2 linked regions of the Homo sapiens genome follow. The protein of the gene in region 2 purifies or fractionates together with the protein of the main gene of each other region. This does not show direct contact. Each region holds a gene or a part of one and is shown on either strand. Other genes may lie near its edges.

The links. The genes of interacting proteins can lie anywhere in the genome.
Region 1: the proteins of CRIPTO (region 2) and MYCBP2 purify together in Homo sapiens (affinity purification with mass spectrometry; 3 studies listed by BioGRID and IntAct, with this or other methods). This does not show direct contact.

The regions. Positions count from the first base shown.
Region 1 is NC_000013.11:77,044,150-77,051,111, reverse strand, and holds the end of MYCBP2 (E3 ubiquitin-protein ligase MYCBP2), read left to right. Parts: coding exon 1-115; intron 116-5,618; coding exon 5,619-5,734; 3' UTR 5,735-6,455; downstream 6,456-6,962. UniProt on the Homo sapiens protein: Atypical E3 ubiquitin-protein ligase which specifically mediates ubiquitination of threonine and serine residues on target proteins, instead of ubiquitinating lysine residues.
Region 2 is NC_000003.12:46,572,934-46,580,791, forward strand, and holds the start of CRIPTO (protein Cripto isoform 1 precursor), read left to right. Parts: upstream 1-4,854; 5' UTR 4,855-5,036; coding exon 5,037-5,071; intron 5,072-6,161; coding exon 6,162-6,214; intron 6,215-6,298; coding exon 6,299-6,433; intron 6,434-6,805; coding exon 6,806-6,920; intron 6,921-7,017; coding exon 7,018-7,127; intron 7,128-7,858. UniProt on the Homo sapiens protein: GPI-anchored cell membrane protein involved in Nodal signaling. Cell-associated CRIPTO acts as a Nodal coreceptor in cis. Shedding of CRIPTO by TMEM8A modulates Nodal signaling by allowing soluble CRIPTO to act as a Nodal coreceptor on other cells.

The sequences.
Region 1 (6,962 bases), on a different chromosome or scaffold from region 2:
TGTTCAGTGGCTGTTTTTTTCTGTTTTGGAACAACACATTTTTGTAATGCTTGTCATGATGATTTTCAAAGAATGACTAGCATTCCTAAGGAAGAACTACCACACTGTCCTGCAGGTATGCTTTTAATATTTTAAAATCACGATTATGATCTATATACCATAGTTTTATGTAAACATTATATGAAAGCTCTGTTTCAAGTGACAGAAACTCAATTCAAACTAGCCTAAAGAAGCAGGAGGAATTCCTTGATCCTTGTAAGCTTATGACTTTCTGGGTGAATTAGGAAGCAGGCTCATCATCATGAGTGAGAAGTTAGCTGTGACGGAGCAGATCTCATGGGGAGTGAGAATGAAGTCTACTAAGGATTGGTGAAAAGATGGCTGTTCAGCACTAAAAAGTCATATGAAGTTCAATATTACAGAACCATTTAAAAGGATTCTGTGATTTTTTTTTTTTTTTAACGAAGCCTGGAACCGTTGCCATAAAATGAACCAAGTGATTTAATCTAGAATGGCTGGGAATCAGTAGTGTAGTGAGCATCAGAAAGTCAAGGGAATTAAAGAAACCACTCAGAATACAGGAGAAATTATTGTCTATGGAAAGCAGGCTGAGGGGAAAGAAGTATGAAACCAAAAAGAAGCTGAAAATACTGGAAGAGGACAGGAGGCTAGTGGCAACGGTGAGGTGGAATACCAGGCTTCACGGAAGTGAGAGAAGTGGAAGGAGAGGTCCGTGCAACCATAGGAGAGAATTTTACATAAGATATATCTGAAATTAGTGAAAATACATGCACAAGTACATACAACACAATATACCGTGTTGTCAAAGCTAGAAAACACACACTGCCATCTGCTGCCTATCAGAGTGCAAGTGATAGACCTCTCCGGAAAACAGCTTAATAGTGCCTCTCAAAATTACCAGCGTATCAACCCTTCAGCACTCCCTCTTCAGGGATATAGCTACAAATGTGAGGACAGTAAAAAAGGGCAAATAAACAAGGTTATTAACTACAGCTTTGCTATGATAATAAAAATGTATAAACAATGCTAGTGTCCAGTAGGGTAGTGGCTAATATTACGCATCAGTTTAAAAAAAAAAAAGAGTGAGGATGGTGTTTCTGTGTGCTGATTTGGAAAGATCTTCAGGAGATAGCATCAGATGAAAAAAGTAAATTAGGCCAAGTGGTGTGACTGACACCTGTAATCCCAGCACTATGGGAGACCGAAGCAGGTGGATCACTTGAGGTCAGGAGTACGAGACCAGCCTGGCCAACATGGTGAAACCCCATCTCTACTAAATGTACAAAAATTAGCCAGGCATGGTGGCGGGTACCTGTAATCCGAGCTACTCACGAGGCTGAGGCCAGAGAATCACTTGAGCCTGAGAGGCGGAGGTTGCAGTGAGCCAAGATTGCGCCACTGCACTCCAGCCTGGGCGACAGAGCTGTTTCAAAAAAAAAAAGCAAATTGCAGAACAGAGTATGCAGTATGCTGCCTTTTGTAAGAGGGAAAATGAGACTATCTAGTCATATTTGTTTATATTTACATAAAGAAACCCCTGGAAAGATACTCAAGAAACTAATACTATTGATTAACTATTGGGAAAAGCAAGAAAAAGATGAGGGTAGAGACTAGGGAAAGTTGCTTCCAATTGTGTTATCATTTTTAACATTTTGATTTTAAACCATGTGAAACATATACTATCCATTTCAAAATAAAGATAAGTAGGGTTTTTTCAAGTATGACTACTTTTTACCATTTGCTCATGTCAAATAAAAATTGTTTTACTGTTTCTCCTCAAATACTGTTTTTTTTTAATAGAAGTAGCAGGCTTTGAAAGAAGCAAGGCCAGAATGATGTGAAGCCAGGTTATGGAGGATAATGGACAGAACAGAGATGTGAGCCATGCTTGGAGGGAGGGGGTGATGTGCTGGAGGTCAGCAAGTGAAGGGAGTGTGGAAAGGGCAGTATTCTAGATGACTCTAGATGACTTGAGCTTGGAGGAAGGGCAATTATTGAATGAAAGTTGTAGGTTGTGGTCTGGAAAGAAATAGGAGCCAAGAGAAAAATCAGTCACACGTTGTAGCCATATGACCTGGAGGAGCTTGGGAGATAACCAGCCTCCAGTTGAGAAAGATTTAAGGCAAGCAGTATCTTCAGGGGAAATCTAGATTTTACTTAAAGTTTCCTCTATGTTAAAAAACAGAAATAAGAATGCTAAAAATAAGGAAGTTAACAATGAAACACTTTAGAGAACTCAGTGGTGGGTAGTAGCTGAGAGAGGAGGGTCAGGTTTCCTCACAGGATCAGGGCAGCCAACACAAAGGAATCACAGGAGGGAGGCGGGGGAGGAGCCAGAGTTGGCAGAAGGAAGGAATGACCTCGGTCCTGGGCATTTTCACACATATTTGCTCCATTTTTACAATCTGCGAGTAGATGGTATTATCCCTATGTTATCAAATGGAAAATTGAGGGCTAGGGAGGTTAATGAACTGGCCTAAGAACATACACTGAGATTGAGGTATACTCTCCCAGCCTCACACATCCCTCTAACTCATCCATTCATTTAGAGAACTGGAATAGAATAAAGGAGATCCCACAGGGATGTGAGTAGGGAAGATGGCCATATACAGTTTACTTAGAAGGACAGAAGAAGCAATTCTCTAACCACTCTCAACCCTGTTAATTCTAATATTTTTAGATAATCAGTCTTCATCCATTCAAGCTGCTATAACAAAATACTGTAAACTGGGTAGCTTATAAACAGTGGAAATTTATTCTCACAGTTCTGGAGACCAGGAAGTCTAAGATCTAGGAATTAGCAGTCGAGGTGTCTGGTGAGGACCCACTCTCAGCCTCATAGGTGGCACTTTCTTGCTGTCGTGGAAGGGCAGGGGGCCTCTCCTGGGTCTCATTGATAGGAAGAGCACTAATCCCATTCATGGATTCCACCCCATGACCTCATCACCTCCCACAGCTCCACCTCCTAACACCATAACATTGGTGTTAATGTTGTAGTCTCAGCAGTGCACCAAGATATAACAGTCTCTCATTGTCTGAGATAATGCCAGGAGTTCTTTGTCCTACCTCCAAGAAGATTAAGGAGCACAGATACAAAGGTGAGGTTAGAGCGAAAGTTTAATAAGCAAAAGAAGAAAGCTCTCTGCCAGCAGAGAGGGGGGCCCAAACAGGATGCTCCCGTGAGGCTGGGGCCCAGGGTTTTTATGGACTGGAAAGGGGAAGGAATGTGCTTAGTCTGTGGGCTGTCTTGGCCCGCAGCGTGACTCAGCTTGGCCCGGGACCCTGGCCCAGGAACCCACTGGAGCCCACTGTGCCTATGCCCACAAAAGGAGAGAGCCCCCTGACTATACAAAGGACAAAGGCATTTCTATCCCAGGTCTTGTCCTTTATCTGATTGAAGGTTTTTCTGTCTGTGCAGCCGTGGGCATGTCTTTAGGCACAATGCCCTGTGCTAGTTCCCTCATCGGTGCCTGCAGCTTGACTTTTTTTCCCCAACTGCTTTTTATGTTATATGGGGATGAGGCACTGACCTGTGGACCTGGGGCTCTCTGGGGACCCTTCCCTTGCTATCTACCTAAGGCAAACTAACTCCTTTCATTAACACGTCAGTATATAAATTTGGAGGAGCACAAAAACATCCAGACCATAGCATAATCCCTCTATCCATTTCTTTCTAAAATATTTATTGACTACCTTCTCGTGCCAGGATACTTAATCTTCACAGCACCCCATGAGTTAGGTATTGCTGTGTCTATTTTAAAGATGAGGTATCTAAGAATCAGAAAAAATAATTTTACTTCAGTTTCATATCTACAAAATGAGGATAATCGTTTCTGCCTCCTATGACTGTTAAATGGTTAAGTAGCTGATATACTAGAACAGTGCCTCAGTAGTAAGCACTCAGATGTTTGCAGGTGTGTTTTCACTATTTTTATTTCTCACCACCATGTTGGATTGTGAACACCTTGAAGATGGGAGCCATGCACTTTTCATCTTTAATCCCAAGTACCTAAGAATGCCCTTCATATATTAGGCATGCGGTAAATATTTGTTGAGTAAATGACTCATTTTTTCCTTGAAAAAACCCAAGGGCTGCAGTTTGTGTCACCACCATTGATATGTTGTGTATCTGAACTAGATCTGCCATTGAGTGTCCCCATCCTGCGCACTCTCCCCCACCCACTGGTGGGGTGGGCACCAATCTGCAGTGTGATTTGGAGCAGGAGCTACTGAACTACTTTCTAACAGGAATAATTAACTTTCTAGCAAACCTCTGGCATCCTCCCATGCTGACCCATCCTGAGGTCTGTGCCTGCATTTGTCTGAGGTGGCACTCATTGCCACTCTCATGCCTGTTAGCTCTAACCTGAAGTTGACTTCTCTGAGATTAGCTGTCTTCAGTTTGACACTCTAATGTCTTGGTCTTACTCTTGTACAGAACTTACTTTTTATTCCTCTAGATCAGGCCTCAGTTTGTGGTTGTTCAGTAATAGTAGTAATAGCCAACATTTATTGGGTATTATACTGTGCAGTCTAAGAGCTTTATAAATGCTAGCCTTTTATCCATCATGGTTTCCTTCTCTTATGTCAGAAATGTTTTTAAACCTAGAAAAGGTAAAGTAAATGAGACGTCATTCCTCATTGATCAGTGTAAGCTCATTCCATCCAATCTCGTGATATTTTTCTCTCAAGCACAATCAGAATTTAGATTTATTATTTTGAAAACTAGCTGTAGAAAACTAATGCAGAGTTCCTATTCCTTCATCTACTATTAAATAGGGACTCTGCTTTCAAGTATAAGCCTAGCGTGTTTTTCTGACAAAGTAAGCCTCCTGGTTTCTAAAGGAACTAAAAATCTTTTCTAAATGATATGAAACCCATGACGTGAAGCACATTAATATAATAATTTTCTTTTTTAAAATACTGTTTTTGGTACATTTGATAGGCCTACTTTGATTATTATCAACAAATTCATATCTTCCCCAAAGTGTTTTTTCCACATTGTATTTTATAACATTGTTCATGTTTTTAACCTGATAACTTTCATTTTCCTGCTAATATCCTTCAGGTACTTTTAAAAATTACAGGAATCATTGGCCTTCCCATTTTACCAGTGTGGGCTTTTTCATCAGTAAAAATAAAAGGGAAAACATGGCTTCTTTAAACTTAAATGTTTTTACTTATAGAAAAACATTCTACACAAAAATCTCCCTGTTTTCTATTCAGAAAAATAATGTTCTGCCAGACTAAATTGAGGGGTTTTGTGACCTTTTTTGTTCATTACTCTGTTTTAAAATGATATATCTGATGCATTTATTAATAGAAAAAGATCTGTAGCTCGAAGTGATCCTCTCTAGGCAGGATATAGTGAGTAAGGGACCCCATCACTTCTTCCATTGTACATATCTGTGTTGAATTTTTTATAGTGAACATTTTTTACTTTTGTGATCAGAAGAAAAATTTCTAAATGTTATATTTGTATAACCATAGTCATGTTATTTCTTTGAATAACCTATCAGTGATTTATATTTCTGTGAGGTTTATATGTGTGTATTCTTAAAACATTATTTTCCTTTGCCTCCTTCAAATTTATACAGGTCCCAAAGGCAAGCAGTTAGAAGGAACTGAATGTCCACTCCATGTTGTTCATCCACCCACTGGGGAAGAGTTTGCTCTGGGATGTGGAGTGTGCAGAAATGCCCACACTTTTTAGAACACGCAGATCCTTTGTCTACAGAGAGAAAAATTGCCTTCATCCCCCAAGAGGATGCGGTGAAGTTTAAACTCTGCTCAGGATAAGGACGGGACCATTTTTACATCCATGAAAATGAACCATTCACAGTGCAAGAAGGATACCAAATACCATGTACATAATTCTTGCTATGAAAAGTTTCCCCATTATTTTGGTTTATCTTCTTTTGAACAAATGACATCAAACTTGTGAGGTGTTTGCATGTGGCCATTACCGTCATTGGCCTGTGAAGCATTGGACATTTATAGATAATTGATATAAAAGAATCGCCATGCCCATGGACTAAGAACGATGCTGGCTTTCAAGCAAAAAAGAAAAATAATCATTGTTTATTGTATACTGCCTTTTTGTAATCCTGTACAATTGCATCACGGGTGGGGATAAAAAGAGGAATATTCTGGTTTATTTCCTAGACTGTTATTTAAAAAAAAAAAAAACATTGTGTTAGGACAGCATATAAATGTAATAAGTATCACACTGTATATAAACATATCAATGTTTGTCCTGTATAAGAATTACTAAATTACAAATGCAATTTCATTTAAACTTCTAGGTTAAGTTTGAGCCTGAAATTTTAATGAAGTGCAATACTGAGTGTGCCTCATTATCTTGCAGCTGTAAACATATTGGAATGTACATGTCAATAAAACCACTGTACATTTTTATACAGTGATAAAGTCTACCACTGTGGGAGGTATTGTTTAAAAAACAAAATTTGAACACCTTTAAGGTCTAAAAGTCCAGTTTTCCTCAGAAAGAAATTTACTAACACAACACATTCATAATTTTCAAAACTGTTAGAGAAAATAAGAATAGTAATGAAGTGCAATGTTGGAATCTTAAACCCTAAGCAGAAGATCATAAATATATATATATATATTCGTAGGTAAATATATTCATACCAAAGACAGAAGAAAGCATTTAGGAAATTAACTTCTATTTTAACTAGCAGCATTTTTAACTTTATTTATTTATTTATGAGACAGGGTCTTACACTGTCACCCAGGCTGGAGTACAGCGGCGTGATCTCAGCTCACTGCAGCCTCCAACTGGGCTCAAGCGATCCTCCAGCCTCAGCCCCCTGAGTAGTTGGGACTACAGGCATGCACCAGCACCATGCCCAGCTAATTTTGTAATTTTTGTAGAGATGGGGTTTTGCCATGTTGCCGAGGCTGGTCTCAAACTCCTA
Region 2 (7,858 bases):
GGAAACAAGTTGTTTTCCTGTGGCACTTCTCAAGGACCTTGCCCTCGCCCCAACCCCATTTTAGAAAATAGGGCTGAGATTTAATATGTGTCTGTCACAGATGTGGCTGGTGGAGAAAGACTAAGCCAAAAGAAAATCAGCACAGGTAAACACTGCACTAGAGGTTGGAGAAGCTAAGGTTTCTGGAAGACCAGATTTCTGGACCTCTTAGTCCAAGGGAATAAAGGATAGGGGGAAGAGTTGGTGAAAGACAAACACACACACACACACACACACACACACACACACACAAAGCAGTTTACAATACAGTGAGACCGAGCAAGGTGACTCATGCCTGTAATCCCAGCACTTTGGGAGGCTGAGGCAGGCAGATTGCCTGAGGTTGGGAGTTTGAAACCAGCCTGGCCAACATGGTAAAACCCCGTCTCTACTAAAAACACAAAATTAGCCAGGTGTGGTGGCTCATGCCTGTAATCCCAGCTACTCAGGGGACTGAGGCAGGAGAATCGCTTGAACCTGGGAGGTGGAGGTTGCGGTGAGCTGAGATCGCGCCATTGCACTCCAGCCTGGGCAGAAAGAGTGAAACTCCATCTAAAAAAAAAAAAAAAAAAAAAATATATATATATATATATATATATATATATATGCAGTGAAGACAAGATAAAATCTGGGGACGGTGGTTGCCAGGACAGGGCTCTCAGAACAGCTGGAAGCTGGAGTAGGGAGGATGGTCTCAGCAAGGACTTCCCAGAGCAAATGAAATTTGGGCTGAGTCTCAAAGAAGCCAGTCCAAGTGCTCTGTAAGAAGGACCAGCCAGGTCATAGAAAATGAAATACAAACACCCAATAACCAAGCAACAATGAAATACTACTTTTCACATACTGTATTAACAAAATTTAAGATGCTTGCTGCAGCCAGACCTGGTAAGTACTTGGGAGATAAGCTCTCAATACCAACTCAAGGGGGAGGGAGGAGGGGCGGAGAGGAGATTGGTGCAGGCTTCTTCGAAAATAATTTGGAAGCATCCACCCTTTAACCAAGCAATTCCAGTGCTAGAAATTTACAAGAGGAATATGCTCTCAAGCGTTCACCAAGATATATGTACAAGGAAGTTCACCACAAAACGTGGAAACATGTCATGTCTATTCATTGATAAAATAATGTATACTATGTCTACATAGGAAGAAATATGATACGGCCCCCATGGCGCACGGAAAAAAAATGAAGTCCTCTCTTAAGCCCTTCTCCATTCCTCTTACGCCATTTATGTAACAATATGGCTCTAAAATGACTTGCTTGAGCATGTCTTCCCCACTGAAATTGCAGATTTTTGAATGCAGGAATCTGTCCTTTTATGTCCCACACAGAGACCTTTGGCAAATACAGAGTAAGTTTCCAGTTGCAATTTGTAAGTTTGCCAGTGAAAACAGAAAGCCATTAACTTGTTAATGAAGTGTGGCCAGGACACATTGGGTGGATAATGCTTCCGCAGGAGTGTAGCTCAGGTGTTAACAGAAGCTAAGCTTGATGAAATTAGAGGCCCCAGCATTCCTCAGCTGGAGGGTACATACATATACAGAACTCCCCCGCCCCCTCTGCTCTCTCTTATCTTCTGGCCTGCCTGGATGTTCAAGGGAACAATGACAGAGGTAAGACCTAAGTGCCCTATGATAAAAGAAGGCTTTTACCTTGAAATACTGTCATTGTAGTGCAGACATGGCATTCTTTTGTTAACTCTTTGGTTGGAATTTAGTTCTACGTGTTCTCAACTATTTAAACAAGGTCGAATTGGCTTTTGATAGCTAAAATTGATCCCATTCTCCAAGTTTATTTTCTTCCTTGAATTTTAGGCAGACACAGGAAGTCTGTCCTTTGATTATGATGTATTTCATTCCACCATTCTTGTTTGGATGGTTTTAAGTCAAATGCTTATTTGTGTGATTTTTAAACACAATTCTGCCCCAGTTTTTAATACACAATGTCTCAAGGGCAGTACCAAGAAATGGCCAACACCAAGAGCATTGTTTTTCATTTTCTGCTCTCAGTGCCTTTTGTAAGGGATGAGATGGGCTGCCTGTGATTGGGGAACCCCCGTTGCACAGCACTTCCCAATCCTAGGCCTGACCTTTTGACACAAAGCACTCATTGGCCTGGAGGCTGGCCAGCAGCCCAGTTTCAACAGTGACCAAGCAGAGGTGACCAGTGGCCATCCTAGGGTAGCCATTCAATTCCCCCACCTGGAGGCAGCAACAACTTTTTGCAGTTAGTACAATTAGAATCAACAATTACTGTTCTTTCTCTCCAGCCTCACAGTGGGGTTACTTCTCACAACTGTTTCTCCAGCGCCAAACTCCAGTCTACAGGCCGCCCAGTAGTAGACATCAAATACCTGTTAAATAGCCCTTACATCTCCAGCCCAACGGCAAATATCTAACCTCTCTTAAACACCACAGCCCTTCCCTTCCCCTTCTCCCCACCCCCCATCCCAAAACCTGGCCCAGGCTCTGAATACCCTGGATCCACTTGGCTTCCTCTGCAGTCAGTACCTATGGGGAATGGGAATCTCTTCAGGGGGTTCTGGTCCTTAGAGAAGGGATTTTGTGTGGCTGAAAAGCTGGCATCCTGGGGTTCTGGTCCCGTCAATGACAACATCGCCAGACTGGAGACCTCAGTTACTTCCTCTGAAAATGCAGTGATTTCCAGGGGTCCTATTTAAGCTCTAAAAATTCCACAAGAGCTTTAGATAAGGAAATAGCAACGCAGGGGTGTGTTCTTTTGCCAGTTCTGCCACAGGCCTGCCCAGTCTCTAAAGACAAGACATCCAAATCCCCCAATAGAACTAGTTGTCTTGTCCATAAAGTGAGACTAATATTGTGGGCGCTACTTATCTACTTAGCACCTTGGACTGGTGAGGACTGTGGTGCACAAGCTACCTTACAAATGTACCACACTGAGTAACATCTTTAAACCTCCTTGCAGCTCCAGGGCTAGCCTTCTCCTTTGCGGAGCCCTCCCCCACCTCCGGCCTCCTAGAGCTTCAGGCCATGTTCCCCTGTCCCCTGTGAATCTCAGCATGCTACCTGAAGCATTTCACCTGAAAAGGCCACACAGGGAGGAGGCGAAGCGCAGCAGGAATGAAATAGTCAACTGCTGTGGAGTTGGAAATGTTGCTGCATCCCACCATTGACTGGATGGGGCCTCACTCCCCCAATACAAATTATTTTACGTTTGCTTCTCCCAAGATCATGTGTAAGGCCGGGCGCGGTAGCTCATGCCTGTAATCCCAGCACTTTGGGAGGCCGAGGCGGGTGGATCATGAGGTCAGGAATTTGAGACCAGACTGACCAACATGGTGAAACCCTGTCTCTACTGAAAATACAAAAATTAGCCGGGCGTTGTGGCGGGCGCCTGTAATCCCAGCTACTCAGGAGGTTGAGGCAGGAGAATGAGGCAGGAGAATCACTTGAACCCAGGAGGTGGAGGTTGCAGTGAGCCAAGATCGTGCCATTGCACTCCAGCCCGGGTAACAGAGGGAGACTCTGTCGCAAAAAAAAAAAAAAAAAAAAAAAAAAAATCATGTGTAGAAGTAAATAACACCTCTTCCCAGCACCTGTGGATCCATGGCATTCACACAGGTAGGCACTGACGCTGAAATGGCCTCAGATGCTACCAATTCTTTCTGCCGAGGCCTAAATCCAATAAACAGAGATGGATGGAAACAACTATCTAATAAAAGTTTCGCATTTGTGTGCCTGGCAACATTAAGTAACCGTCAGGCTTTCCTTTAGAAATTGGAATTAAATGCGATTTAGAAACTATTAACGACTTTGGGCGTATTTAATAACACATGAAATAACCCGGAGGATTGAAATGTTAGGTGAGGCGACTCCGGCTCATAGACGCGCCTCTCCATCTGGGGCGTCTGGCACTTAGTGGAACCACTCAATAAACACGTTTACCCCTGCAAGCGGCACATCAGAGTCCGGGGGTAATTCTCGGTGTCGTGGGGCCAGGACGGCGAGGGGCTGGAAGAGGCCGCCCTGTGGGAGCTGGGAGGCTGAGATAAATTCCCGTGATTGGGGGCTGAAATGGCCTCCCATGCCGGACTGCCGTGGTTCTAGAACTTTTTCCTGGAACAGGCCGGCACTCCCACTGGAGAGTCCCAGCTGCTGCGCCTCTGGCCGCCCCTCCCCTCTCCCGGGCACCTGGCGCCGGCTCCCGCGTCCTTTCAGGAATTCACGTCCGCCTGGAATTTGCACTTCAAGTCTGGAGCCCCCAAGGAACCCCTCCTGACCCTGAACTTCTATCTCAGTTTCAAGCTTCCTAGTCTTCCCCACACACACACACCTAGCTCCTCAGGCGGAGAGCACCCCTTTCTTGGCCACCCGGGTATCCCCCAGGGGGAGTACGGGGCTCAAAACACCCTTCTGGAAAAACAAAGGTGGAAGCAAATTTCAGGAAGTAAAACTTCCTGAAATAAAATAAAATATCGAATGCCTTGAGACCCATACATTTTCAGGTTTTCCTAATTAAAGCAATTACTTTCCACCACCCCTCCAACCTGGAATCACCAACTTGATTAGAGAAACTGATTTTTCTTTTTTCTTTTTTTTTCCCAAAAGAGTACCTCTGATCATTTTAGCCTGCAACTAATGATAGAGATATTAGGGCTAGTTAACCACAGTTTTACAAGACTCCTCTTCCCGCGTGTGGGCCATTGTCATGCTGGTGGGCGTCCCGCCCACCTGAAAGGTCTCCCCGCCCCGACTGGGGTTTGTTGTTGAAGAAGGAGAATCCCCGGAAAGGCTGAGTCTCCAGCTCAAGGTCAAAACGTCCAAGGCCGAAAGCCCTCCAGTTTCCCCTGGACGCCTTGCTCCTGCTTCTGCTACGACCTTCTGGGGAAAACGAATTTCTCATTTTCTTCTTAAATTGCCATTTTCGCTTTAGGAGATGAATGTTTTCCTTTGGCTGTTTTGGCAATGACTCTGAATTAAAGCGATGCTAACGCCTCTTTTCCCCCTAATTGTTAAAAGCTATGGACTGCAGGAAGATGGCCCGCTTCTCTTACAGGTATGAGCTAATCTTGAATGTGAACTTTTTTTGATTGCTAGAGATTGCCAGCTTAGGAAGTAATGTTCTACACCTGTCATTTGATTTTTCTCTTGCTCAAGCCTTAAAAGAGCTGCCAACCGCACTGCTGTTTTTCCTGAAAGACCTGGAATTTCACATGGTTACTTCTAACTTTGCCATTGGCTTTTAACATTTTCGTGTTAATGTTAATTTTCATTTTATGTTAATGACTCTGCCTATGAAATAGTGTTTCTTTATTCTTGTACAAATAAAGGTCAGTACTACAACCAAATTTAAAATCTTCCGAAAAGATTAAAGGTATAAGCAGATTCAATACTTGGCAAAACTATTAAGATAATAGCAAAAAAAAAAAAAAAAACCCACATTTTTTACCTAAAAACCTTTTAAGTGATTGGTTAAAATAGTTTGGCCGGGTGCGGTGGCTCACGCCTGTAATCCTAGCACTTTGGGAGGCAGAGGCGGGTGGATCACCTGAGGTCAGGAGACCAGCCTGGCCAACATGGCAAAACCCCGTCTCTATTAAAAATACAAAAATTAGCCAAGCATGGTGGCGGGCACCTGTAATCCCAGCTACTCTGGAGGCTGAGGCAGGAGAATTGCTTGAACTGGGGAGGGGAGGCAGTGAGCCGAGATCGCACCATTGCACTCCAGCCTGGGTGAAAAACCGAAACTCCCTCTCAAAAATAAATAAATAAATACAGTAGTTTGTAAAATGATTCATCGGTAACATGGGATGCAGCTATTTTTTAATCCTTATATGAAAATTGTATGCAGGGGAAAACATGTGAAATAGAAGATAAAAGACATATACCTACTTAAAATTAGGTACTTATGTGAGGACAGGGCCTAAGAAATAATAATATATATTAAAAAGACTTGGATATTGGTGACTTTTTTTCAACATTTTTCTTTGTTACATGAATTAGCCATTAAAAAAAGAAAGATGGTGCTCTACAATTTCTTTTCAGTGATCTGTGGTCTTGTCCTTGTGATGAGAGGACCTGGGTGTTAACTTGTAAGGTTTTATTTCCTTTGTTTGGCTAACTCATGTCTGACTTCCTCTTCCTAGTGTGATTTGGATCATGGCCATTTCTAAAGTCTTTGAACTGGGATTAGTTGCCGGTGAGAGACCTTTTGTTCTTTTGATCACTCTCAATTTTTATGTGGCCTAAAATACAGACTCCATGAATTGATTTTGTCGTTAAGGGCTGGGCCATCAGGAATTTGCTCGTCCATCTCGGGGATACCTGGCCTTCAGAGATGACAGCATTTGGCCCCAGGAGGAGCCTGCAATTCGGCCTCGGTCTTCCCAGCGTGTGCCGCCCATGGGGATACAGCACAGTAAGAACTGCCTGACTTCGATGCTTCTGCCCTGGCCCTTCATGTGTCTCCTGAGTATCTTTCCAACACTCTTTCACCTAAAAGGGCACCTGGTTCTGGAACTGTGCAGGTGCTGGACTGCTTTTGGTTTTGGAAGTGAGACAAGGATTGTGTATTTTACTTCCCTAGAGTGCAGTTTTCCTCCCCTGAGTCCACTTCACACTGGGGAACCCAGAACCACCACTGGCCTATGCATGAAAATGACTTCTCTGCTCAAAGGCACAGAGACTTACTCTGATACAACACATTGGTGTTGTATTAACCTTCGCTTACAGGAATTGCCCTTGCACTTTTCCATCCCTACACCCTCAGTCATCTGTTCTTACCTTTCAGGTAAGGAGCTAAACAGAACCTGCTGCCTGAATGGGGGAACCTGCATGCTGGGGTCCTTTTGTGCCTGCCCTCCCTCCTTCTACGGACGGAACTGTGAGCACGATGTGCGCAAAGAGTAAGCAATTCAGAGGGGCGGGGAGCCGTGGAGAGGAGAGAGAAAGGGAAGTGGAAATTTCAGACCCAAGGCTATCGCCTTACCTGTTCATTCTCAGGAACTGTGGGTCTGTGCCCCATGACACCTGGCTGCCCAAGAAGTGTTCCCTGTGTAAATGCTGGCACGGTCAGCTCCGCTGCTTTCCTCAGGCATTTCTACCCGGCTGTGGTAAGCGGAGGTTCTCCTCTTTCTTTTGCCCTTTGAAGTTACGTAGTTGCCTTGGGGGGTGCTTAGTTAGCAGGCTCTCCTTGTACCTCTTGTCTTGCTAGAGCCTGGCAGCCAAAGTTCTGCTTATAAAAGCATCGCAGACTCCTGATGAGATAGTTGCCTTGGCCTCTTTGATATTTATTTCCTCGGGAACCTGGCTAGTCCTGCTGCCTTTCAGATAGAGATGTATTTCAAGTCTATTTGACATTTTATGGTCTGAACTTCTATTGAGGAAAATAAACAAGTCTCGGTCTCTTGTTAAACCAAGAGATGTTCTCTGGTGTTCCTTTCCTTTGGGTAGGGGGACCCAAACCAGGATGGGCAGCTCATTTAGAGCCCACCCTGACGACAAATTCTATCAGAGGCTTGGCCCCTTGCTAGTCCTTTAGAAACTTCCAGAGTCCTAAAAGTCCCTGGTAACCCCCTCCCCATACCTTACCATGACTGGTCACAGAACCCTTACCATGACTGGTCACAGAACCCTTTCACCTTCTTGATTTTTACTGATTTGAGGAATACAATGAAAAGAAGGGCAGCACCTGGAGAGGAAAAGAGGCGACAGTCCTCTCTCCACCCTAGCCTGAGCCAGGTTTCTAGGGCCCCCCAAATTCAGAGACCTATTATAGTTCTGGGCCTTGGAGATGTTAGAAATGGAAAATATTCAAGTCCAGGAAGTAAATGAAAGCAAACAT